7 linked regions of the Homo sapiens genome follow. The protein of the gene in region 3 interacts with the protein of the main gene of each other region in a biochemical or structural test. Each region holds a gene or a part of one and is shown on either strand. Other genes may lie near its edges.

Evidence for each region.
Region 1: of the proteins of PTPRJ (region 3) and NTRK1, one has a biochemical effect on the other in vitro, tested with the Homo sapiens proteins (one large-scale study listed by IntAct).
Region 2: the proteins of PTPRJ (region 3) and CNKSR1 form a complex in vitro, tested with the Homo sapiens proteins (one large-scale study listed by BioGRID).
Region 4: of the proteins of PTPRJ (region 3) and PPP1R12A, one has a biochemical effect on the other in vitro, tested with the Homo sapiens proteins (one large-scale study listed by IntAct).
Region 5: of the proteins of PTPRJ (region 3) and PKP4, one has a biochemical effect on the other in vitro, tested with the Homo sapiens proteins (one large-scale study listed by IntAct).
Region 6: of the proteins of PTPRJ (region 3) and WAS, one has a biochemical effect on the other in vitro, tested with the Homo sapiens proteins (one large-scale study listed by IntAct).
Region 7: of the proteins of PTPRJ (region 3) and LCK, one has a biochemical effect on the other in vitro, tested with the Homo sapiens proteins (one large-scale study listed by IntAct).

The regions. Positions count from the first base shown.
Region 1 is NC_000001.11:156,870,865-156,874,364, reverse strand, and holds part of NTRK1 (high affinity nerve growth factor receptor isoform 2 precursor), read right to left. Parts: intron 2,743-3,500; coding exon 2,610-2,742; intron 733-2,609; coding exon 406-732; intron 1-405. UniProt on the Homo sapiens protein: Receptor tyrosine kinase involved in the development and the maturation of the central and peripheral nervous systems through regulation of proliferation, differentiation and survival of sympathetic and nervous neurons.
Region 2 is NC_000001.11:26,180,491-26,183,990, reverse strand, and holds part of CNKSR1 (connector enhancer of kinase suppressor of ras 1), read right to left. Parts: coding exon 3,381-3,500; intron 3,277-3,380; coding exon 3,095-3,276; intron 2,135-3,094; coding exon 2,050-2,134; intron 1,631-2,049; coding exon 1,589-1,630; intron 1,512-1,588; coding exon 1,407-1,511; intron 795-1,406; coding exon 735-794; intron 646-734; coding exon 577-645; coding exon of another isoform or gene 556-576; intron 263-555; coding exon 161-262; intron 1-160. UniProt on the Homo sapiens protein: May function as an adapter protein or regulator of Ras signaling pathways.
Region 3 is NC_000011.10:48,165,559-48,168,448, reverse strand, and holds part of PTPRJ (receptor-type tyrosine-protein phosphatase eta isoform 1 precursor), read right to left. Parts: intron 1,246-2,890; coding exon 1,087-1,245; 3' UTR 1-1,086. UniProt on the Homo sapiens protein: Tyrosine phosphatase which dephosphorylates or contributes to the dephosphorylation of CTNND1, FLT3, PDGFRB, MET, KDR, LYN, SRC, MAPK1, MAPK3, EGFR, TJP1, OCLN, PIK3R1 and PIK3R2. Plays a role in cell adhesion, migration, proliferation and differentiation.
Region 4 is NC_000012.12:79,773,068-79,775,582, forward strand, and holds the end of PPP1R12A (protein phosphatase 1 regulatory subunit 12A), read right to left. Parts: 3' UTR 501-2,515; downstream 1-500. UniProt on the Homo sapiens protein: Key regulator of protein phosphatase 1C (PPP1C). Mediates binding to myosin. As part of the PPP1C complex, involved in dephosphorylation of PLK1. Capable of inhibiting HIF1AN-dependent suppression of HIF1A activity.
Region 5 is NC_000002.12:158,459,952-158,463,451, forward strand, and holds part of PKP4 (plakophilin-4), read left to right. Parts: intron 1-3,500. UniProt on the Homo sapiens protein: Plays a role as a regulator of Rho activity during cytokinesis. May play a role in junctional plaques.
Region 6 is NC_000023.11:48,686,799-48,689,362, forward strand, and holds part of WAS (actin nucleation-promoting factor WAS), read left to right. Parts: coding exon 1-157; intron 158-1,255; coding exon 1,256-1,298; intron 1,299-1,501; coding exon 1,502-1,655; intron 1,656-1,861; coding exon 1,862-2,268; intron 2,269-2,521; coding exon 2,522-2,564. UniProt on the Homo sapiens protein: Effector protein for Rho-type GTPases that regulates actin filament reorganization via its interaction with the Arp2/3 complex. Important for efficient actin polymerization. Possible regulator of lymphocyte and platelet function.
Region 7 is NC_000001.11:32,257,765-32,261,264, reverse strand, and holds part of LCK (tyrosine-protein kinase Lck), read right to left. Parts: intron 1-3,500. UniProt on the Homo sapiens protein: Non-receptor tyrosine-protein kinase that plays an essential role in the selection and maturation of developing T-cells in the thymus and in the function of mature T-cells. Plays a key role in T-cell antigen receptor (TCR)-linked signal transduction pathways.

The sequences.
Region 1 (3,500 bases), on a different chromosome or scaffold from region 3:
GAGAAAGCAGTCAGAGGGAGGAGAGAAAGCAGTCAGAGGGAGGAGGAAAGCAGTGAGTCCCCTGCCTACTCTGGGACTCATTCCTTCATGGGACGAGGGGGGATGGAGGTGGGCTGCTGGGCCTCAAGGAAGAAGATGCATGTGACCCTTTTCCAGCTGGGCCAGGATGCCCTGCTGCATGGCTGTCTCCTCAGCCAGCCGACAAGGACGGAATAGCTCAGGAGTTCAGGAGTCCTGGCTTGGGGAGAGGGTAAGGAGGCCAGAACAGCGGGACACCAGGACTCCAGACTCCTTTCTGTCCCGAACCAGGCACTCCAATTTCTGGGGTCAGGGCTATAGCAGGAAGTTGGCTGTAACCCAGGAGGAGCCCAGGAGTGGGGGCAGGGTTCAGGATGGCCCTCGCACCAGGGATGGGGTCCTCGGGGTTGAACTCGAAAGGGTTGTCCATGAAGGCAGCCATGATGGAGGCGGAGGCCTGGCCGAAGGGGTTGGCAGCCAGCAGCGTGTAGTTGCCGTTGTTGACGTGGGTGGGCTGGTTGAGGCGCAGACACCCGTGCCGCACGGTCTCATTGGCTGCCGGCTCCAGGAACTCAGTGAAGATGAAGCTGGTCTCATTGAGCACGGAGCCATTGAAGAGCCAGCGCAGAGACGGTGCCGGCTGCCCATCCACAGAGAAGGGGATGCACCAGTGGTGCATCTCCACCGCCGTGTGCAGCTGCACACTGGCCGGGACTGTGGGCCAGAAAGAGCAACAGCAGGAGGTCAGGGCGCAGCTGGAGGGAGCCTGGCACACACCCGACAAGTCCACGGGCAAAGCGAGTAGAACCCGAAATCAAAGGGCAGGCCTGGGAGAAACAGGTCAGCAGGCCCTGGGAAATTCACCAAGGAGAGATGTTTTGAAGAAAGTTGACAATACATTTTAAATAAATCAGGCAGCAGGCATATAAAATTTAGAGGCTTAAAGAACATAAGTGGTGGGCCATAAATAAGTCACAGCCCCACAGGAGTGGGGTATCAGCTTATGACAATTAAACATGGAGTCTTTGGGATAAGGAATCTAGAAGAAGTCAGTGTAACCAAGCTGAAGAAGATGGGTCAGGGGCCCTAACAATCAAACCAGCCAAAAATATATACAGTTAAATTTTTGGGGAAAAGCCAGGCACAGTGACTTGCTCCTGTAATCCCAGCTACTCAGGGGGCTGAGGTGGGAGGATCGCTTGAGGCCAGGAGTTCAAGGCTGCAGTGAGTTATGATCCCAAAGCATTCCAGCCTGGGCAACAGGCTGAGACCCCATCTCTTCAAACACACACACACACACACACACACACACACACACACACACACACTCTTTTTGAAAAAAGATATGCGTTTGAAATAGACCCAATCTGGGCCAGGCGCGGTGGCTCACGCCTGTAATTCCAATACTTTGGGAGGCCGAGGCGGGCGGATCACGAGGTCAGGAGATCGAGACCATCCTGGCTAACACGGTGAAACCCCGTCTCCACTAAAAAAATACAAAAAATTAGCTGGGCGTGGTGGAGGGCGCCTGTAGTCCCAGATACTCAGGAGGCTGAAGCAGGAGAATGACGTGAACCTGGGAGGCGGAGCTTGAAGTGAGCCGAGAGCGCGCCACTGCACTCCAGCCTGGGTGACAGAGCGAGACTCCATCTCAAAAAAAAAAAAAAGAAATAGACCCAATCTGGTAAAAGTAAAAGCCCCTCAATGATAGAAAAAAAGTGTATGTATGCATAAATATATGTATATATATATATAATATAGCATTCATACATAGGAATACTATTTAGCAATGAATTGCATGAGCTACATATAGCAACTCCCATTAACATGAATGAATCTTATAAATATAATGTTGAATGAAAGAAACCAGATACAAAATAATACACGCAGTATGATTCCATTTATATAATGTACAAGAACAGGCAAAACTAAATGATACCGATAGGAAAGCATATTTGAGAAAAATTATTTTTAAAAGCAAGGAAATGGTTATCCTGACAAAAGTCAACATGAGATGGGAGAGTGGGATGGGATTGCGAACAGGGAGAGGTGTTGGGTGGTGGGGGATCTTCCGTGATGCTGGTAAGAGTAATTATTGTTTAAAATATATATATTTTTTGCACATTTCTATGTATATTTCACAATAAAAGAAGAAAACTGATGTAAAGTAGAATATTTAAGATAATTTGTTGGCTGATCTAGAGAAATTAGGCAGCGAGCGTAAAGAGGAACTCAGGAGGAGAATTTCCTCTTTTGAAACTAGGATGCGGGGAGAAGGACCCGATGAGGGACGGGCATGAAAAAATACTTCGGAGCAGTGGGAACAGCCGGGCATCTGGCGTTGAGGGCCTCAGGTAGCAAGGCTCGGGCAGGGGGCCAGAAAGAAATCCATCTCCATCCCTCTGGCCTTGACAAGACCCCAGGACTTCCCCCAAAGGATCAGGTTTTCATGGGAATCTGGAAACAGCTGGGAGGGAGCAGCTGTGGAGACACACATCCCACCCTTTCTTCCAGCCCCCCACCCTACATCCTCTTTTGAGGGAAGAAGAGATGAGTAGGGGGTGGGTGCCGGAGCTGCCACTGAGACTCACAGGAGACGTTGACCTGAACAGAGACCTCTGCCCGGCCCACATCGTTCTCTGCCCAGCACGTCACGTTCTTCCTGTTGAGGTCACTGGTGACATTGGCCAGGGTCAGCCCCAGGGATGGCAGACCCCCAGATTTCTAGATCAGGAAAGAGAGGGGGGAATAAGAAGGAGCTTTAGCCAGCTTGGGGCTGGGGCTGAAGTCTTTGGAGAGCCCCTCTGGCTCCAGATGGAAAGGAGAGGAGGGCTGGGAGGGAAGAGAAGGGAGAGAGGGGTGGGAGAGAATGTAGCAGATAATGGCCTTCCTCCTTTAGGTTTGTTCGTTGACTATCTCCTGGATCACATTTTTTTTTTATTTTATGTTTTATTTTTGTAGCGACGGGGTCTTACTGTCCTGCCCAGGCTGGTCTTGAACAGGGCCTCAAGCAATCCTCTCACCTCGGCCTCCCAAAGTATTGGGATTACAGGCGTGAGCCACTGCGCCCAGCCTGGATCACGTATTTAATTATCTGAAAAATCTAAAATCTAACCAGTAGCCTCAAAATAGGCACAAAATATCCCAAACTGAAACTAAAACCAGCCATCTGAGCAGCTAAACAGATGTCACGCATCCCAAGTACCAAATTTGTACACAGCTCGTTGGAGACCCCACTAGGACCTCACTGCCTATTCATTCCTGTTTTACACACAGTTCTAACAAACTGAGTCTCAGCCCAAGGAAGATCAGAAACAAAGAGATGGTGCAAATAGCACAGCAGCAGTTAGAAACAACAGCAGCGGCATCGCCTCCTGCAGCAGATGAGGACCATGGGTGAGGTTAGACAGGCAAAGTGACTTGATTCTGAATCATCGTCAGGATTGAATCAGATCAAGTTTCTCTTCCTAGGAAACCGTGGA
Region 2 (3,500 bases), on a different chromosome or scaffold from region 3:
GGAGCAGGTACCTGTGGGGGGGTCTGAAGGGAGCTAGGGGGGCGCAGCAGGGGAAGGTGCCTGTTGGGGGGGGTCTGAAGGCAGGTGTGGGGGTGGTGGGGGCAGGTACCTGTGGAGGGGGGGGTCTGAAGGCAGGTCGGGGGGCGGCAGGGGAAGGTACCTGTGGGGGGGTCTCCGGTATCGGGATCTTCTTCAGCACTAAGCTGAGTCCGGCTGGCTCCCGCAGCAGTTCCCTCACCATGTTCTTACGGGGCCATCCCACCTGGGGGACAGAAACACTGGCTGGTATCAACCTGGGCAGGAGGCTCTAAAGCAACCACCAACTCTCACCCTCGTGCTGGGAGCTCTCTCTCAGCCTCCCACTTCTGCCTCCCACTCATGCAGCCTCCTGGGGGCTTCCATGGGCCCCATCACCTGGGCTCTGCAGAGGATGCTCTCACCAGACTTAGCTGGCTCATCTCCTGGAAGGCAGCTCCCACAACCCTGGTCAGAACCCTTGGTTGCCTCCCCACCCACCAGACTTGGGTTCCACTCGGTGACCCCTTCACCTCCTACCATGTCCCTCTCCTCACGCACCACCACCTGCTCGTTGATCTGGACAACCTCGTCTCCAGGCTGGATCTGCAGTCGGGAGTCAGTGGGAACCTGACGTGGGGAATGGGGCCTGAGGTTGGCCTGGCTTGCAGGTGAGAGGCCTCGGGGATGGGCGGCTGAGAAGGGTGTGGGGCTCTCACCTGGGTGTCCACTTGGGACACAAAGTGCTGGCAATTGCTGGTGGTGTGAATTTCTAGGCCCTGCAGAGGCAGAGGCTATAGTCACCGGGGGCTGGGGGGCAACAGGGCCAATAGGCAGGACCCCCGCCAGACACCAGGACTCTATGGTGGGTGGAACTGTGGCAAGAGCTGACCCCAAGCTGGTCCTGCCCAGACTTGCTGTATGACTTTGGACTTGCTACTCCTGTGGGCCTCTGCCTTCTCCTCTGCTAAGAGCCAGAGGGAAGCTGGAGACCCTGATTTCTGAGGTACCAGCTTCTCAGCAACATTCCTAAAGGGACAAGCAGGGACAGGGCAGGGATAGGGCTCTGGTCTTCCCCACTGGTCAAAGATTAAACCAAGAAAGGTCACATCCTCTCCCTTTCTCCTAACTGCCCCCAAGCCCCTGCCCCGTCTCCATCCCAAGGCTGGAACACACTACCTGAGGCCACACCCGCGTGGCCCCTCAGGACTGGGGAGGTGCAGAGCAACGGGAGACCCTGGCCAATCCTCTGGGCCTCCATTTTAGCATCTGTACAAAAAAGGCTTTCCAGCCATGGCAGCACAGGGTTCTGTGGGATCCTGGACCCTATTTCAGGGCCCAGACAAGGCTGCCAAGGGGTCAGAAGTGAGAGGTGGGAGGGCAGGGCTCACCAATGGACTGTCCAGCTGCACCTGCTCGAGCACGGCCTTCTGTTCCAGCAGCTCCTTGGGGCAGCAGACCAGGATGTTGTGGCAGATCCCAGCCACGTGGCTGCACTGGGGGAGGGGAGCGGGCTATGTAGCCTGAGCCCGATCGCCCCTACCCCCACTCTCTTCCCACCCCACAGACTCACGATCCTCAGGACTGTGCCCTCCTTCTCAGCCGCTGGACCATCCTGGAAGTAGAATGAGAGAGCAGGGGCCTCCCCTGAGCAAGGGCCATAAGGGGACTGCCTTCTCCTGGGGGCAGGGTGGGATTCCGTACAGTCCCTCCCTGCCTTCCCTACACTGGCCCCCTGCCCAGAACCACAGGGCCTCAGCGTTTTAACCAGAGGGCTCGTTTCCCTGATACCAGGCCCCCAGAAGTCACCACACGTGCCCTCCCCTCCTTCCCTGTCCTGAGTGTCAAAATTCCCCTGCCAGCTAGGGGACCCCAGGCCCCATTGTCCCATACCCAGTGGCAGGGCCTCCTCTCCTCCTTTCTCGCCCGTCTCAATCCTCATACTCGATCCTGGGCTGATTCACAGGTTATAAAAAGCTCTAGCCCAGCTTGGTCTCTAGGGCATGGGCCAAGCCTGGCCCTTGGTTCTCCTACCTCATGCAAGACCTGGCTCAGCTCCTCCAACAAGTCTCGGATCTCCTGGCATGCTGAGAAATCATTTAAGTGGGAGAAGAGGTACCTGGCAGGGGAAGAATAGCACAGTGGTTAAGGGACTATGCTTAACCACTCAGAGCCAATTACTCACCAATTACTCACCTCAGAGACTTGGGGATAATACCTGCTCTGATGGGTTTTGGTTTAGAGTAAAGGAGATGATTGAGACATCTAAAGAGATTAGCACAGGACTTATTTGTCATGTGCCTACCACATGCCAAGCCCTGTTCTAGGCACTGGGGAAACAGACAGTAAAGACATCATACATCAATATCAATTTAACTTTGGCTGTAATGAGTATCATGAAACATTGGATAATGAGTTTATAATAAGTTATTATTTATTATTTATTAATAGTATAGCTTGGAGAGTGTACAACAGGGAAGGCTTCCCCGAGATGACATTTGAGGTGGGGTCTGTAGGACAAGCAGCAGCCAGTGCACAGGGTTGGGGAGGCTCTCCATTCAGTGGTTGTTGATGAGATCGATTATTACAAGCTGGAGGGTGGGGTGGGAACTCTGGCATCCCAGTGCCCCTGCACAGGTGGATTAATCCCTCTGCCCTGCTCCACCATATCTTTTTTTTTTTTTTTTTTTTTTTTGAGAGGGAGTCTCACTCTGTCGCCCAGGCTGGAGTACAGTGGCATGATCTCGGCTCACTGGAACTTCCACCTCCCAGGTTTGAGTGATTCTCCTGCCTCAGCCTCCCCAGTAGCTGGGATTACAGGTGCGCACCACCACACCTGGCTAATTTTGTATATTTTTGGTAAAGATGGGGTTTCACCATGTTGGCCAGGCTGGTCTCCAACTCCTGACCTCAAGTGATCTGCCCGCTTCGGCCTCCCAAAGTGCTGGGATTACAGACCTAAGCCACCACGCCTGGCTCACCATATCTGAACAAGAGCCAAGATCTGTTTTTCTCTCCCACGCCCTGAAGGAGGCCAAGGATGACAATAGTCCCTCACTCGTCACCCCAACCCGGGTACCTGCTGAGCCAGAAGAGGAGGGCGTCAGCTTCATGCAACAGCTCCACAGCTGCACAGAGGACATCAATAGGGGTCTTGGCACAGTCCCCCAGGCAGCCTTGGACTATGCTCTGGAAGTCATGGGTTGCCCCCAGAAGTCCCTCTGTCAGGCTTTGCAGGTTCTCTGTCTGTAGCCTGGAGCTCTGTGCCAGAAAGAGGGCAAGTCACCTCCCTGGCAGCAGCCAGCCCCCCATCACACCCCCCAGGTTGGTGGAAGCTGCAGCCAGTGTGACCAGCATTCACTCACCAGGGCCTGGAGCTGTTCCACCCCGCCCAGGATGAGCTCCTGGTGTCCCAGAGACCGCACAGCCAGAGCCTCGAGGCTTTGGGGGCAGAGCTGGAGCAGGTTCTTGCCAGGCAGCTGCCA
Region 3 (2,890 bases):
CACGCTGAAGTGTTCACAGATTGCCACGCTTCTGAACATACACACACACATACAGACACAGACACATAAAATGCCAACCTGAGTAAAACGTTACTAAAAACCTAGAACATCATGAATCACTAATTCACATATTGCACCTTTAAATAATCCTTCATACCAAATACAGACATGAGAAAAAGGATAATACAGGGACAAGAAAAGGATTTCTGCCACTGTAGGATTCCTCTGCTTCTCCCATTCCCACCCACAGAAATTCTCAAGGTGATATTTGAGTCGCCATTCTCACCCAACCAATGGGTTGAAAATGTTGCCAACAGAAGAGTCTTTGGAGAAAACTGGGAGGGAAAAGGGAAGAAAAAATGGAGCACAAATGTACAGGGGGCAGGGGAAGCGGAGTCGGGGCAAAGAGGCCTCCCCTGATCAAATGAGAACAGAAATGTTACTGAGGAAGCAAACCTCTGATGCTAAGCTACTGTTTAAATATTCCGTATATTCCAATTATGAGATTCAGTACAAAAATATAGATCTCTACTGAGTTTTGCCTGTGGAAGCATAATTCAGAAAAGGCACATGTTCAAATAGAAAACCCATTCGGAAGAGGTGCCACGTACCCCTCCCTGCGCAATCATCATCCACAATTAGGTATTTTCCATCGGCTAGATTCCAAGACACAGTAGGTAAAAATAGACCTCTGATACTTAAAATATATTCAACCCAACACAATCCTGGCTTTAGCATGTGAATCATATAAAATAGTCTTTTTTAAAAAAGAAATTGTTTTGGAAAAAAAAATCATAGCTCCCTTTTCCTGGTTTTCCACAATCCTCAAGGGGGAAAAAAAAAAAAAGTGACCTCATCCCATTGGTCATCAGGAATGCAGATGATTTGCTCCCCACCCATCCACAGCCCCCGACAGCCCCAATTTGTCATCTATCATATGCAGCTTCATGCCCTCAAAATTAGTTCTCACAAAACAGAACAAAGAATTAAGATATTAGACATATAAAAACATGTCGACATCGGGGCATGTGCCTTCGCTGTGGGTGCGACGGTCTGGTTCACTCCAGAAAGGTTATTCCTTTGGAATTAGGCGATGTAACCATTGGTCTTTCCAAATGTGGTCACGGGCGCAAGGTTTTCATAGATTGTCATTGCAGTTGTGTTCTGGTAGATAAGATCTACTTTTGAGTCTTTCTGGGATCTGACAATATCCAAAACACACTGATTGAGGAAAACATACTGGTCCTGATAGAAAAACGAAAGAGAGAGACAGAAAATGAACATGGGTCCCAGAAATTAGCACCCAAAATTATTTTCAAACAGGTCATTCCCCCGCCCAACTCCCAAACCCCATCCACCCAACAGCAAACGGTTCAAGCGAACATGTTTCAAGAGGTAACAACATTGCAGTGAAATCTGAAATCACAGAAGCAAGATGTCCTTCCTCAATGATTCTCAACCAGAAGAGCACACTCCACACCTCCCCTCCCCAAGGAAAAATGCCACAGTCTCAGGGAAGGGCAAAGGAAGGAGGAAATGTAGAGGAAAAAATGCACACACACATTCGAACAATCAAATGTCCAACAAGATTGCCTTGGCTAGTGAGACTGTACAGAGTAAGAATCAACTGTAATGCTCAACCGAGGAGCGAGGTTAAAAGGAGATGATCAGGTGGAGCTGGATGAGGACTATCCTTCAGGTAGGTATATCAGAATCTGTGGATAGTGATGAAGAAAAGAGGAAACAAGGGTATAAGCTGACACAGAAAAATATCCATGATATTATAAGAGGAGAAAAAAAATCACAGAGAAGCAACATACATAAAACAGGATCTGGCCAGGCGCGGTGGCTCCTGTCTGTAATCCCAGCACTTTGGGGAGGCCAAGACAGGTAGATCGGCTCAGGTTAGGAGTGCGAGATCAGCCTGGCCAACATGGTGAAACCCCGTCTCTACTAAAAATACAAAAATTTGCTGGGCGTGGTGGCACACACCTGTAATCCCAGCTACTCAGGAGGCTGAGGCAGGAGAATCGCTGGAACCCAGGAGGTTGAGGTTTCAGTGAGCTGAGATGGCACCACTGCACTCCAGCCTGGGCAACAGAGCAAGACTCCATCTCAAAAAAAAAACAGCATCCAATTTTTTCAAAGTACTGTGTGTGCGTGTGTGTGTGTGTGTGTTTACAGATGTACATAAAGAGTCTTATAAAGATGTACACCAAACTATAAACATTGGCTACCTCCAGGAAGCAGGATTGGGGAAGGAAGAGTAAGAGAAAAATATATTGAGGCCAGGCACGGTGGCTCACACCTGTAATCCCAGCAATTTGGGAGGCCGAGGCGGGCGGATCATGAGGTCAGGAGATCGAGACCATCCTGGCCAACATGGTGAAACCCCATCTCTACTAAAATACAAAAAAAAAATTAGCTGGGCATGGTGGCACACGCCTGTAGTCCCAGCTACTTGGGAGGCTGAGGCAGGGGAATCGCTTGAACCCAGGAGGCAGAGGTTGCAGTGAGCCGAGATCGCACCACTGCAATCCAGCCCGGTGACAGAGCAAGTCTCCGTCTCAAAAAAAAAAAAAAGAGGAGAGAAAAATATATTGTCAAATGCTTTCATATGAATAAGTATTGTTTTCAAAATATAAAAAAGAGATTAGACTCTAGTAGCAGGGATAAGAGTTCTATGTTTCTCAAAAAAGGATAAAAGATTGAGAAATACTACTTTATATAATTATAGCAGAAAAAAGAAAATCTCTCTTTTGACCAACACAGGAGTTGAATTTCACTCTTTCCACAACAACCACCAAGCTCACCCCAGAGCACGCAATGTACCCAGGCATCTAGAACATTCCCTGCTAGACTCAAAAACACAGCACATATTCATAGAGTT
Region 4 (2,515 bases), on a different chromosome or scaffold from region 3:
CACAATCTTGGCTCACTACAACCTCTGCCTCCCTGGTTCAAGTGATTCTCCTGTCTCAGCCTCCTGAGTAGCTGGGACTACAGGCGATTGCACCATCATACCTGGCTCATTTTTTATTTTTAGTAGAAACGGGGTTTCGCCCTGTTGGCCAGGCTGGTCTCAAACCCCTGACCTCAGGTGATCCTCCCGCCTGGGCCTCCCAACCATGCCTGGCTAAAAGTGCCTCTTATTTATAGATGTGTTAGCAGGTCGAACCTTGGACAAATCTAAATTGGAAAATGATCTAATATTAAAGTAAACTGTATGTTTCAATGGAATATTACCTTTATATGTATCGCTAAGCCTATGTTTGCAGATAAGAAAAAGCACAGGTTTACTTTAAGAAAAAAAAAAAAAACAATGTTTATGGAAGCGAAATCTTGTGCTACAAAGCAACTACCCTGAAACTCACTGTTATTAATTTTTACCCACTTATTATCATAAAAAAACTAGTTCTCAGATTCTGCATACAGACAGCTTTATGTAAAATATATAAACATTTGTCCAAATTGGTACACAGATTGCATAAATATGGCAATTAAGATTGCATTTACAGATGTGCATGTACAATGCTGTGCAAATTATCACAATATTACAATTTCAGAAATTATTCAAATTGGTATCCAAGTAAAGCAATTAGTGAAAAAATACCCATGCAGAATTTAAATATCTCAGAACAAAATTTAAAATGTCTTCATTAAAAGTTCACACATTTAAAATAGTTTTATTCATTTTATTTGTATATGTCAAAATACATTTTTATTTCCAAAATAGTGGGTTTTGCAACTAGTTTCATGCAGAAACAAGGTCTGCTCAATACTACCAATAAAATCAATATAGCACAGTAGCTGTTCAGTTTTAGATACAAAGAATAAATAACCTAAATACAAAACACTAAAATATTAGAAACATGTATTTAATCATTCTTCACAGGCATCCAAACTTCACAAATATAAACCATAGCATGCCTAACTGTTGTGCAACCAGAACATGTTGCAGTCACTCAAACTGATCAGTTATCTGTATATTTTACCTCCACATAAGACCATGGAAATTCTCAATATTCAGACCTACCATTCATACAGTTCAAATATAACCAAAAATAAAACTCCCACAACTATCCTTGTACCTTTAAAATCAAGAATCCTGAGCTTGGTAGTAAGAGCATAACCTTATATCTTCATAAAACCAATCGAGAGAGAGAGGACTTAAAATCCTGCTTACCAAAACACCCTTCCCCAACCCCAAAGTAATCTAAAATAGGCAGTAGAACACAATGACCTTTTAAAATGAAGGGGTACAAATTCACATTTAATATAGTATACAATACAATCAATAATACAATCAGCTACTATAAGCTTTACAATGTACAATTTATTCAAATGGCTGAACTGTTCAGTGGTTAAGGAGACAGTTATGTGCCAGAAAGATGTAGTATTTTTTGCATGGTTTAATGAAAATATAAAAGCTATTTGTCCAAATAAAAGCCATCGTCACTATGTACTTGGTTTTGCGCTTTTTTTTCCTTAAAAAAAAAAAAAGGCCACTGAAATGTATAAAATGGTCTGAACATGATGGTGGTATCAAAGTCGATGCCTCTTCACATGGCAATAACAGTGCATTTAACATTAACTCACGGGTTAATTCTGCAAATGATTTCATAGCATTACTTTGGCTAGCACAACAGTTTTAGACAGCACTCAGATAAATATAGGTATGTGAAATGTAAAGCAATTATCTTATGCAACTTTAATTATGGTTGAGTACTATCAAGTGAAAACTGAAAATAAAAGCACTTTACAGTAGGAAACTTTTGTAAAGATAGGGCTCCACATAATGTGTAACTTTTAAAGTCTTTATATCACATTGTTAGCAAATTTTGTTTTTTAACACTATCATGGAGTAGCCTACTCTGCATTAGCAGACATTTGAAATAAGAAATAGTCAAGCATGCCATGTGGTGGTCTAAAAATCAAAACAATACACTTATTTGTATATACAGCATCACTCAGTACCTGCTAAAATGAATGTGAAGATTACAGAATCTAACATCTTATACTACAATAAAAAAAAAGTGACCAATGAAGCAGAAAATAGGAATTAAAAGATCTAACCTCAAATGACTTTAAAGCATTCATATAAGAAATAAATGCATATTGCACAAACAGTGAAAGCATATGTTCCACCAAGCAATTCAGTTCCAGGTGGGAGACAACACAGCATTAGCCTAATACATGACAATAATCACAGAAGAGCAAGTGTTCTTTTCTGTAATGAAAAAGCTGTGAAAACATAGAAGACTCTGCCACATGAAGAGTTTAGAAGGAAAAAATACAAACCCAAACTTAGATGAAAAGCCAAAAAATTTAAATATCGAAAAACTCGAAACTGTGGCACATCAAAAAATGTTGAGTAACTGTCTTCTGTGAGAGCTGAAAGTTTTTGTTGACACAAAAGTATTTATGTACAACTAAGG
Region 5 (3,500 bases), on a different chromosome or scaffold from region 3:
AAATAACCGAAATTGTATTTTGACCAAAGTGCATTCCCTCCCCACCCCCTACTATTATGTAAGGAGAGGGTGCTGCATCTGGTGTCTTATGTATTATACTGAAGAGTCTAAGTTGGGAAAGCTAAATATCCAATTATTTTAATTTTTACCTGTATTGTTTTTGGAGGGAGATAAGGGAGCAGAGTATTGATGGAAAACAAGGGAAGAAGAAACTAGGGGCAGCTAGTATTCAGCCAGAAAGTAAAATTATATACATTATTGCAGCAGTAATGCATTTATAAGCTGAATAAATCAAATCTAATTTTGTGACTAGTTCTGACATGATATGAATTTAAAGAAACTACTACCAAATTCAGTTTAATAAAAATTTTAGCATTTCTATGACCTTGAGTATTTGGATTAGGTTTAAATTAGAATCGCAGTTTTCTTCCTTTTCTTGTAAATAGGCAAAGTAAATTTAATGTAAAAATTTGAAACTCGCTTTAATTTTTGAAAATGCAATTATTGGCAATTTTTGACCTTAGTAATTTCCATGCTGTTACCCAGGGATCAATTTAAATAATATTCATACCCTGGATGATGCCAACCATCAGGTAAGTCTAGTCTCTTACCTGACTCTTTTGAAATATTAAGGTATTTTGAGAATGCTCTGTAATCTAATGTGTTTTTCTTTCTGTTTCAATTGAGCAGTAATTCCCTACCTTGCTTAATTCTAAAATGGACATCATATCTTCATTCTTAAATGGAAGGTAAAATAGAGGTTACTATAGGGTTATTTTAGGGCATAAATGCCTATGGTATTGTATGTCAGTTTGGGAAGTTTGCCTTCACGCCTTCAAGTGTACAGGGAGATAGTTACTCCTTCAATGTGTGAAATGATTCTGTAGTGCCCTTCCTGCACTGAAGGGGGAAGAAGAATCTGAAACATAACACCAGAGGACTAGGTATGTTTGGAGAATTAAATAACTATTTCACAGCCAGACAACACTACAGACAGCTGCAAATAGAGAAAAGAAGGAAAACTTTTAAGATACGTGGATGTAAGCTTTCATTCTTACATCAATGGAAGTGATGATAGCAGTCAGCAGGTCAGTTCGATGCTCAGTGATAAGAAATAACAGGGTTATTTCAAGGTAAGGTAATCAGGCTCTAAGTTGCCAAGAACAGTAATTCATGTACTTGCTGGTTTCAGTTCAGAAGTTGCATAACATTCAAATATTTCTTACCTTGTCACTTTAATAATTCAGTGGAATTATCTTAATTTAGTGTGCTATGTTACCATTACTAAATTGGGGATGTTACATGATGGTGATCTTCAATTAAACTTAGGAATGTTGCAGACATTTTCTTCATCATTGACCTGTTGTTTTTCCTTTTCATAATTCAGATTTGTTTGATATACCAATAAATGTTGGCTATATCACTGATCATTTTATTATTCATAGTCTTGATAACATTATAGTTTATTATGACTCATATATAATGATTCATTGCAGCTGATAAAATGTTGTTAGGGATTGTATTGTGAGATTTTATTACTACCAAATATATAAATTAAAATGTGGAAGTGTCTGAGTTATTGTAAGTCATGTGATTGCAAAGCATTTTTCCTGAATGGAATAATGCCTGGTGACTGGGTGGGTGCCAATCCAGGTAGCTAGATATAGAATAATACAGTCTTCACAAAATCCAGAACTCACAATATAGGGTAGGGAGGGAGGGGGCCAGGGGAAGCACCTTTCTTTGACATCTGAGGCATGTTTGACTTCTATAGTTTCCTCTCCACTAAATATAAATTGGGTGAGTTGCAAATATTTAATGGTGTTAGTACTGCTCTTCCTTCATCTGTGCCCCTACACTGCCCCCACCACCCTGCCACAACACACACACACTATGCCATCACCACATCTGTGAGCTTGGCAAGGCAGAGGAAGCTCCTTATGGCCTGAGACCATGTACATAAAATGTAGACATTGGTGTCCTGTATTCCAGGTTGAATTTAAAACAGGTATGGGGTTTGACACAAAAATGATACTGTATATGAAGGTTAGGTAAAATATGTATTTGAAGTGAGGCTATCAGGGTACTATGCAGGCTTTTGGGGCCTGGCCCGAAACTTGGAATGCAGTTTTTCATAGAAACCCACAATCAGTTTACAAATAGACTTTTGAAACACTGGCTAGGTGGTATCTGAAGTTTTGGCCCATTGCAAGCTGTGTCTGAATTGCAAGCATGAGGGAAGTAAAAAGCATCCCAAATCAGAAATTAGGAGATCTGCCATTAAACCTTATTACCTTGACAAACCATTTAATGTTTGGATGATAGCTTCCTCCTTTTAAAAATACAATTTGGATTATATTGATCTAAGTTATATTTTAGCTCAAGATTCCTGAAGTTCACAGTGGTTTTTAAAAATTTTTCTTAAGAAAAAAAAAAGAACAAAAAACTTTTCCAAGCTTGAATATACATAATCAGCCCTGTTTCCCCTTGTACCTCAAATCATGGCAACAAGGAAGTTGAATTTCTCTTTTGAGACTTTTGAACCTTCTTCACATTCATTTTTAATTGTTTTGTTTTAAAACAATATCATTTTGGGAAGTGAGGGGAAGGGATGAAGCACATGTTTTCAAAGTCTTGCTGTCTGCCTCTACCCTAGTCTGAGATTACATATGGTAGTTTTGGCCAGGGAAAGTGCTTGGGATTTCACCTTCATACTCAGTGAGGCTCATGAAGTGTCATTAAGGTAGTGAGGTGTCATGATTAGCAGCCTTACTGTCAGGGTCCAATTCTGGCACTGCAACTTGCTGGCTGTGTAACCTGGCAGATTGTATAATCTCTGTGGTCCTCGTTTTGCTCATCTGTAGGATGGAGTGATAAAAGTACCCACTTCATATGGTTGTTGGGGAGATTAAATGAATTAATACATGTAAAGTGCTTACAACAGGAGCTGGTTCAGAGCCAGCGCTTAATACATTGAAATAATTATTTTTACATTGTGGTGCTTTTATGATGGTTTCTGCAGCATTTACCAAATGCCAGGGAAATTATTGGCTTGCTTTCTGTGTGGGTTTTGTCAAAATGATTATGGATTTCAACAGGATATTTCAGAGAAGAAATAAACTGCTGAACAGAAACCATTGTGAGCTTGATAGTTTGCAGGACATTGTAGAAAAGAGAATCCAGCACAGTAATTAAGGGCCTTTTTAAGTAGGGAAGTTGTAGCTTCTTGCGGTAGGCAATACTTAGAGAGGCATTAACCACCGCTAGCCAACAAGTATAGGAGAATGTATACAATTATTGCGTTTGTAATCCCAGGTAGTAGTCATTTTATAAAATGTCTTTGCTAGTCAGTACATGAATAAAGCGTTAGAAAGTGTTCATCATTTAACACCATTTGCCCAAATGCAGCTTGTAAATTAACTCTTTAAGCTGGCTTTTCTGTCTGAAAGTGATCACAGTTGAAAAAAAAAAAAAAAAGGATATTTGAAATCAGCAGGAGA
Region 6 (2,564 bases), on a different chromosome or scaffold from region 3:
TCTCCCTGGGGCTGGCGACAGTGGACATCCAGAACCCTGACATCACGAGTTCACGATACCGTGGGCTCCCAGCACCTGGACCTAGCCCAGCTGATAAGAAACGCTCAGGGAAGAAGAAGATCAGCAAAGCTGATATTGGTGCACCCAGTGGATTCAAGTGAGAGCCACTCCCCAGTGGACCCACAGATTCCTGGGGGCAGAGGGGCACATGAACAAGTGGACAGCTGAGTGAATGGAAGGATGGGCAGATGGGCAGATGGCTGGGTGGCTGAGTGGGTAAATGGGTGGTTGGATAGGTAGGTGCAGGGCTGGGTCTAGGGAGAGGTAAATAAGGCACCAAGGGTACAAAATTTAAGGAGGCACTCACTCTCAGAGGCATGCAACTGTAATTCCTGACTCTCAGAGTGAGTGACTCACTTAAATTTTGCACCCTAGGCACCTTACTTGCCTCACCCTGGGCCCACTCTGGGTGGGCTGTTAGGAGAGCAGGTGGGTGGGCAGGTGAACAAATGGATAGATAGATGAGGTAGATGATGGATGAGAAGGGCTGGTGGGTAGGTGGGTGAGTGGATGGGTGGATGGATGGATAAATGAATGGATGAATGAATGGGTTGAAGAATGAATGGATAAGTGGTTGGATGGACAAGTTTATGGGTGGATGGGTTGATGGGAGGTGCGTGGATAGATAGATGGGTGAGTGGATAGGTGTGTGGACAGATTGATATGCAGGCTGATTGGCTCACAGACAAGGTGGATGGGGATGGACAGGTGGACAGATACGTGGATGAATGGACAGTTCAATGGATAAGTGAACAGAAGTGTGTGGTTGCATGGGTAGAAAAATGAGTGGATGGATAGATGGAAAGGTGGGCACATGGGTAGGTGGATGGGTGGATGGACAAGTGTGTGTGAGGACAGACTGGTGGACAAATGGGTGAACAGACATATGTGGGCAGATAGTTGCAGAGACAGATGTATGGACAGATCAGTAGTCCAACAGATGAATGTGAATGAATAGGTGGACAAATGCATGGGATAGATGGGGAAAGAGGGATGGGTGGATGGATCAGCACCACAAACTATGGAGCCCTTCTAATTCCATAACTCCTGCCTATACTCATTCACTCATTCAGTCTCATTCATTAATTCTGGCCCCTCAGAGTCTCTTTGGGCAGGAGAGGGCAAGAGGGTTTCACTATGAAGGGAGGGAAGGAAGGGCAGTGAGGATTCACTGGAGTCTCTTCACCTCTCCCAGGCATGTCAGCCACGTGGGGTGGGACCCCCAGAATGGATTTGACGTGAGTAACTTCAGAGTCTCTTGGACTCCACTAAACTTCCACCCACCCTTCCAAAGACCACTGCTGAGACCCCACCCCCAGATCGTGCCCTTCCCACACCCCTCTCAGATCCCTTGCTGGGATGGACCCAACGACAATCCATGTCGCTTGTCTCCTCGCCTTATTCCTCTACTCCTGCCCCTGGCCTTTTTCCTCCTGGGCAGGTGAACAACCTCGACCCAGATCTGCGGAGTCTGTTCTCCAGGGCAGGAATCAGCGAGGCCCAGCTCACCGACGCCGAGACCTCTAAACTTATCTACGACTTCATTGAGGACCAGGGTGGGCTGGAGGCTGTGCGGCAGGAGATGAGGCGCCAGGGTGAGACCCTGCTTCCATACGCTCCCTTCTCTAGCCCAAGCAGCTCATAGCTAAGATACGCACTAAGTCACTCAGTCCTTATGGGAGCACCTATACTGCTTCAGTCAGGAGTTGGTCAGTGGGGGTACCCATTTTACAAATGAGCAAAACTGAGGCTCAGAAGAAATCAATGAGAGTTACAGCTATGTGTTATACCCCCTCCACAGAGCCACTTCCGCCGCCCCCACCGCCATCTCGAGGAGGGAACCAGCTCCCCCGGCCCCCTATTGTGGGGGGTAACAAGGGTCGTTCTGGTCCACTGCCCCCTGTACCTTTGGGGATTGCCCCACCCCCACCAACACCCCGGGGACCCCCACCCCCAGGCCGAGGGGGCCCTCCACCACCACCCCCTCCAGCTACTGGACGTTCTGGACCACTGCCCCCTCCACCCCCTGGAGCTGGTGGGCCACCCATGCCACCACCACCGCCACCACCGCCACCGCCGCCCAGCTCCGGGAATGGACCAGCCCCTCCCCCACTCCCTCCTGCTCTGGTGCCTGCCGGGGGCCTGGCCCCTGGTGGGGGTCGGGGAGCGCTTTTGGATCAAATCCGGCAGGGAATTCAGCTGAACAAGGTGAGGACAGGCAGGATGGAGGATTGGGGGTCTAGGACTCTGGGGTGTCCCGTCTAAGTCAGGATACTGGGGGGCTGAGGCCAGGACTGAGGAGAGTGCCAGGCCTTAGGGATTCAGTGATAGGGTTGAAAGGTTGGTGGGAAGCCTTGAAGGGGACTGGAGTGTGTGGGAGAGAAAATATTGATGGAGGGGCGGGGAGAAATGCTCCTTTCCCAGGCCCTAAGCCCTCTGTGCTGATCCCTGCCTGCTGCAGACCCCTGGGGCCCCAGAGAGCTCAGCGCTGCAGCCACCACCTC
Region 7 (3,500 bases), on a different chromosome or scaffold from region 3:
AAAAAAAAAAAAAAAAAAAAAAAATTAGCCAAGCATGATGGCGTGATGGCATTTGCCTGTAGTCCTAGCTACCCAGGAGGCTGAAGTGGGAGGATCACTGAGCCCAGGAAGTCAAGGCTGCAGTGAGCCGTGATTATACCACTGCACACCAGTCTGGGCGACAGGGGACCCTGTCTCAAAAAAAGAAAAAATTAATTAAATTAAATTAAAAAAAATTTTTAAGTTAACATTTTTTCTCCTCCAACTATAGACCTATTGATTTATTGAACATTTTGTCCAAAATGTGTGCCAGCTTCGTGGCTGAGTTTCTTGGGCCAATGCTTTACATCAAGAACAGGCAGGTGGTCGGATGCAATGGCTCACGCCAGTAATCTCAACATTTTGGAAGGCCAAAGTGGAAGGATCACTCGAGGCCAGGAGTTCAAGACCAACCTGGGCAACATGGTGAGAACTCATCTCTACAAAAAATACAAAAATTAACCAGGTGTGGTGGTGCACGCCTGTAGTCCTAGCTACTCAGGAGGTTAAGGTAGGAGGATCGCTGAGCCCAGGAGGTTGAGGTTGCAGTGAGCCAATATCATACCACTGTACTCTAGCCTGGGGGAAAGAGCAAGAACCTCTCTCAAACAAAACAAAACAAACAAAGCAACACAAAAAACAGCAGACAAGACTATACTTCCTTTAGGGATCATTTCTTTAGTTCAGTTTCTCTGAACATGTAGAGCACAAAAAGTAAAAAAGAAAAAAGAACAAGCAGACTATTCTACTGCAGACCATTGTTGTACTCTGGACCACCTCATGGCAAAATCTGTCAGAAATCATTTAGAATAGCCAGGGCTGGAGGCTCACGCCTGTAATCCTAGGGCCGAGATGGGAAAATCACTTGAGCTCAGAAGTTCAAGACCAGCCTGGGCAACATAGTGAGACTTTGTCTCTGTAAAAATAAAAATAAAAGGCCAGGCGCAGTGGTTCACACCTGTAACCCCAACACTTTGGGAGGCTGAGGTGGGTGGATCATGAGGTCAAGAGATCGAGACCATTCTGGCCAACATGGCGAAACCTCATCTCTACTAAAAATACAAAAAATTAGCTGAACGTGGTGGTGCACACCTGTAGTCCCAGCTACTCGGAAGGCTGAGGCAGGAGAATTGCTTAAACCCGGGACTGCACTCCAGCGTGGCGACAGAGCAAGACTCTGTCTCAAAAATAAAATAAAATAAAATAAAAATAAAAATAAAATTAAAAAAAAATGAATCATTTAAAACATTTTCTTCGCCTTTGCCCCGACCCAGACTTGATTAATGACAAAGCTGCCCATGTTCAATAAAGAGCCTTAGCTATTCATGCCCACATAGAACCCTCATGACAATATCAAGCAATATCAAGAATCAGGGCTAGCAGGCATGGCAAATAATTTCTTTCTTTATTTTATTTTATTTTGAGACAGGGTCTTGCCCTCTTGCTCTCTTGCTCTCTTGTGCCACTGGAGTGCAGTGGCAAAATCACAGCTCACTGAAGCCTCGACCTCCCGGGCTCAAGCAATCCTCCCACCTCAGCCTCCTGAGTAACTGGGACAACAGGCATGTGCCACCACGCCTGGCTATTATTATTATCATTATTATTATTATTATTATTTTTATTTTTTTAGATGAAGTCTCACTCTATCGCCCAGGCTGGAGTGCAGTGGTGCAATCTCGGCTCACTGCAACCTCTGCCTCCCAGGTTCAAGCAATTATCCTACCTCAGCCTCCCGAGGAGCTGGGACTACAGGCGTGTGCCACCACACCTGGCTAATGTTTGTATTTTTAGTAGAGATGGGGTTTCACCATGTTGGCCAGGGTAGTCTAGAACTCTTGGCCTCAAGTGATCTGCCTGCATTGGCCTCCCAAAGTGTGGGATTACAGGTGTGGCATGAGCCACCGCACCCAGCCTCCAGCTATTTTTTTTTTCTTTTTCTTTTTCTTTTTTTTTTTTTACCTGAGAAGCTGTGAATGAGAGGGCCCGGGTAATTTTTGTATTTTTTTAATTTTTGTAGAGACAGGGTTTTGCCATGTTGCTCAGGCTAGTCTCAAACTCCTGAGCTTAAGCAATCCACTGCCTCAGCCCCTTAAAGTGCTGGGATTACAGGCATGGGCTACCGTGCCCCGTCAGTAATTAATTTCTAGTGGGTAAATCAGGGATGTGTCCTGGGCTACCTCCTTTTTCATATTTGTTTAAATACATAATACTTTTTTTTTTTTTGAGATGGTATCTCACTCTGTGGCCCAGACTGGAGTGCAGTGACACAATCATGGCTCACTGCAGCCTCGACCTCCCATAGCTCAGGTGATCCTCCTACCTCAGCCTCCTGAGTAGCTGGCACTATGGGTGGGCAACACCACGCCTGGATAATTTTTGTATTTTTAGTAGGGACAGGGTCTCACCACGTCACACAGGCTGGGTTTTTTTTTTTTTTTTTTTTGAGACGGAGTCTCGCACTGTTGCCCAGGCTGGAGTGCAGTGACGTGATCTCAGCTCACTGCAACCTCCACCTCCCAGGTTCAAGCGATTCTCCTGCCTCAGCCTCCCGAGTAGCTGGGATTACAGGCACCCGCCACCATGCCTAGCTAATTTTTTGTATTTTTAGTAGAGACGTGTTTTTTAGTAGAAACTAATTTTAGTTTCACTATGTTGGTCAGGCTGGTCTCGAACTTCTGATGTTGTGATCCACCTGCCTCCGCCTCCCAAAGTGCTGGGATTACAGGTGTGAGCCACTGCGCCCAGCCTGGTTTTTTTTTTTTTTTTTAAAGAGATGGAGTCTCACATCTCACTCTGTCACCCAGGCTGGAGTAGTACAGCACATGATTGTAGCTCACTGCAACCTGAAACTTCTGGCCTCAAGTAATCCTCCCACCTCAGCCTCCCGAATAGCTGGGATTACAGGCAGGAGCCACTGCACCTGGCTTTAATTCCGCTCTCTCTCTTTTTTTTTTTTTTCCTTTAGAGATGGGATCTCACTCTGTTGCCCAGGCTGGAGTGCGGTGGCATGATCATGGCTCACTGCAGCCTCAACCACCTGGGCTCAAGTGATCCTCCCACCTCAGCCTCCTGAGTAGCTGGGACCACAGGTACACACCACCAAGCCCAGTTAATTTTTTTATTTTTTGTAGAGACGGGGTCTGCCTATGTTCCCCAGGCTGGTCTTGAGCTCCTGGGCTCAAGCAGTCCCCTTGCTTTGGCCTCCCAAAATGCTGTGATTATAGGTGCAAGCCACCACACCTGGCTTAATACCTTTTTTGAATGAACTCTGTAGCCTCTCGACACAGAGAGAACAAAAAAAAAAGCATTATTTTGGATGCAAACAAAATGGATTTATTTTCACAAATTGGGAGTGTCTTGAACATAGAACTGATTCTGCTAGTCAAGTATCGCTATAAATAAGGGATATAGAGCAATTATTCTAATTGGTATTTTAGTAGAAGTCCCCCAACCAGTAACGTGAATATACCTGATAATCCCTT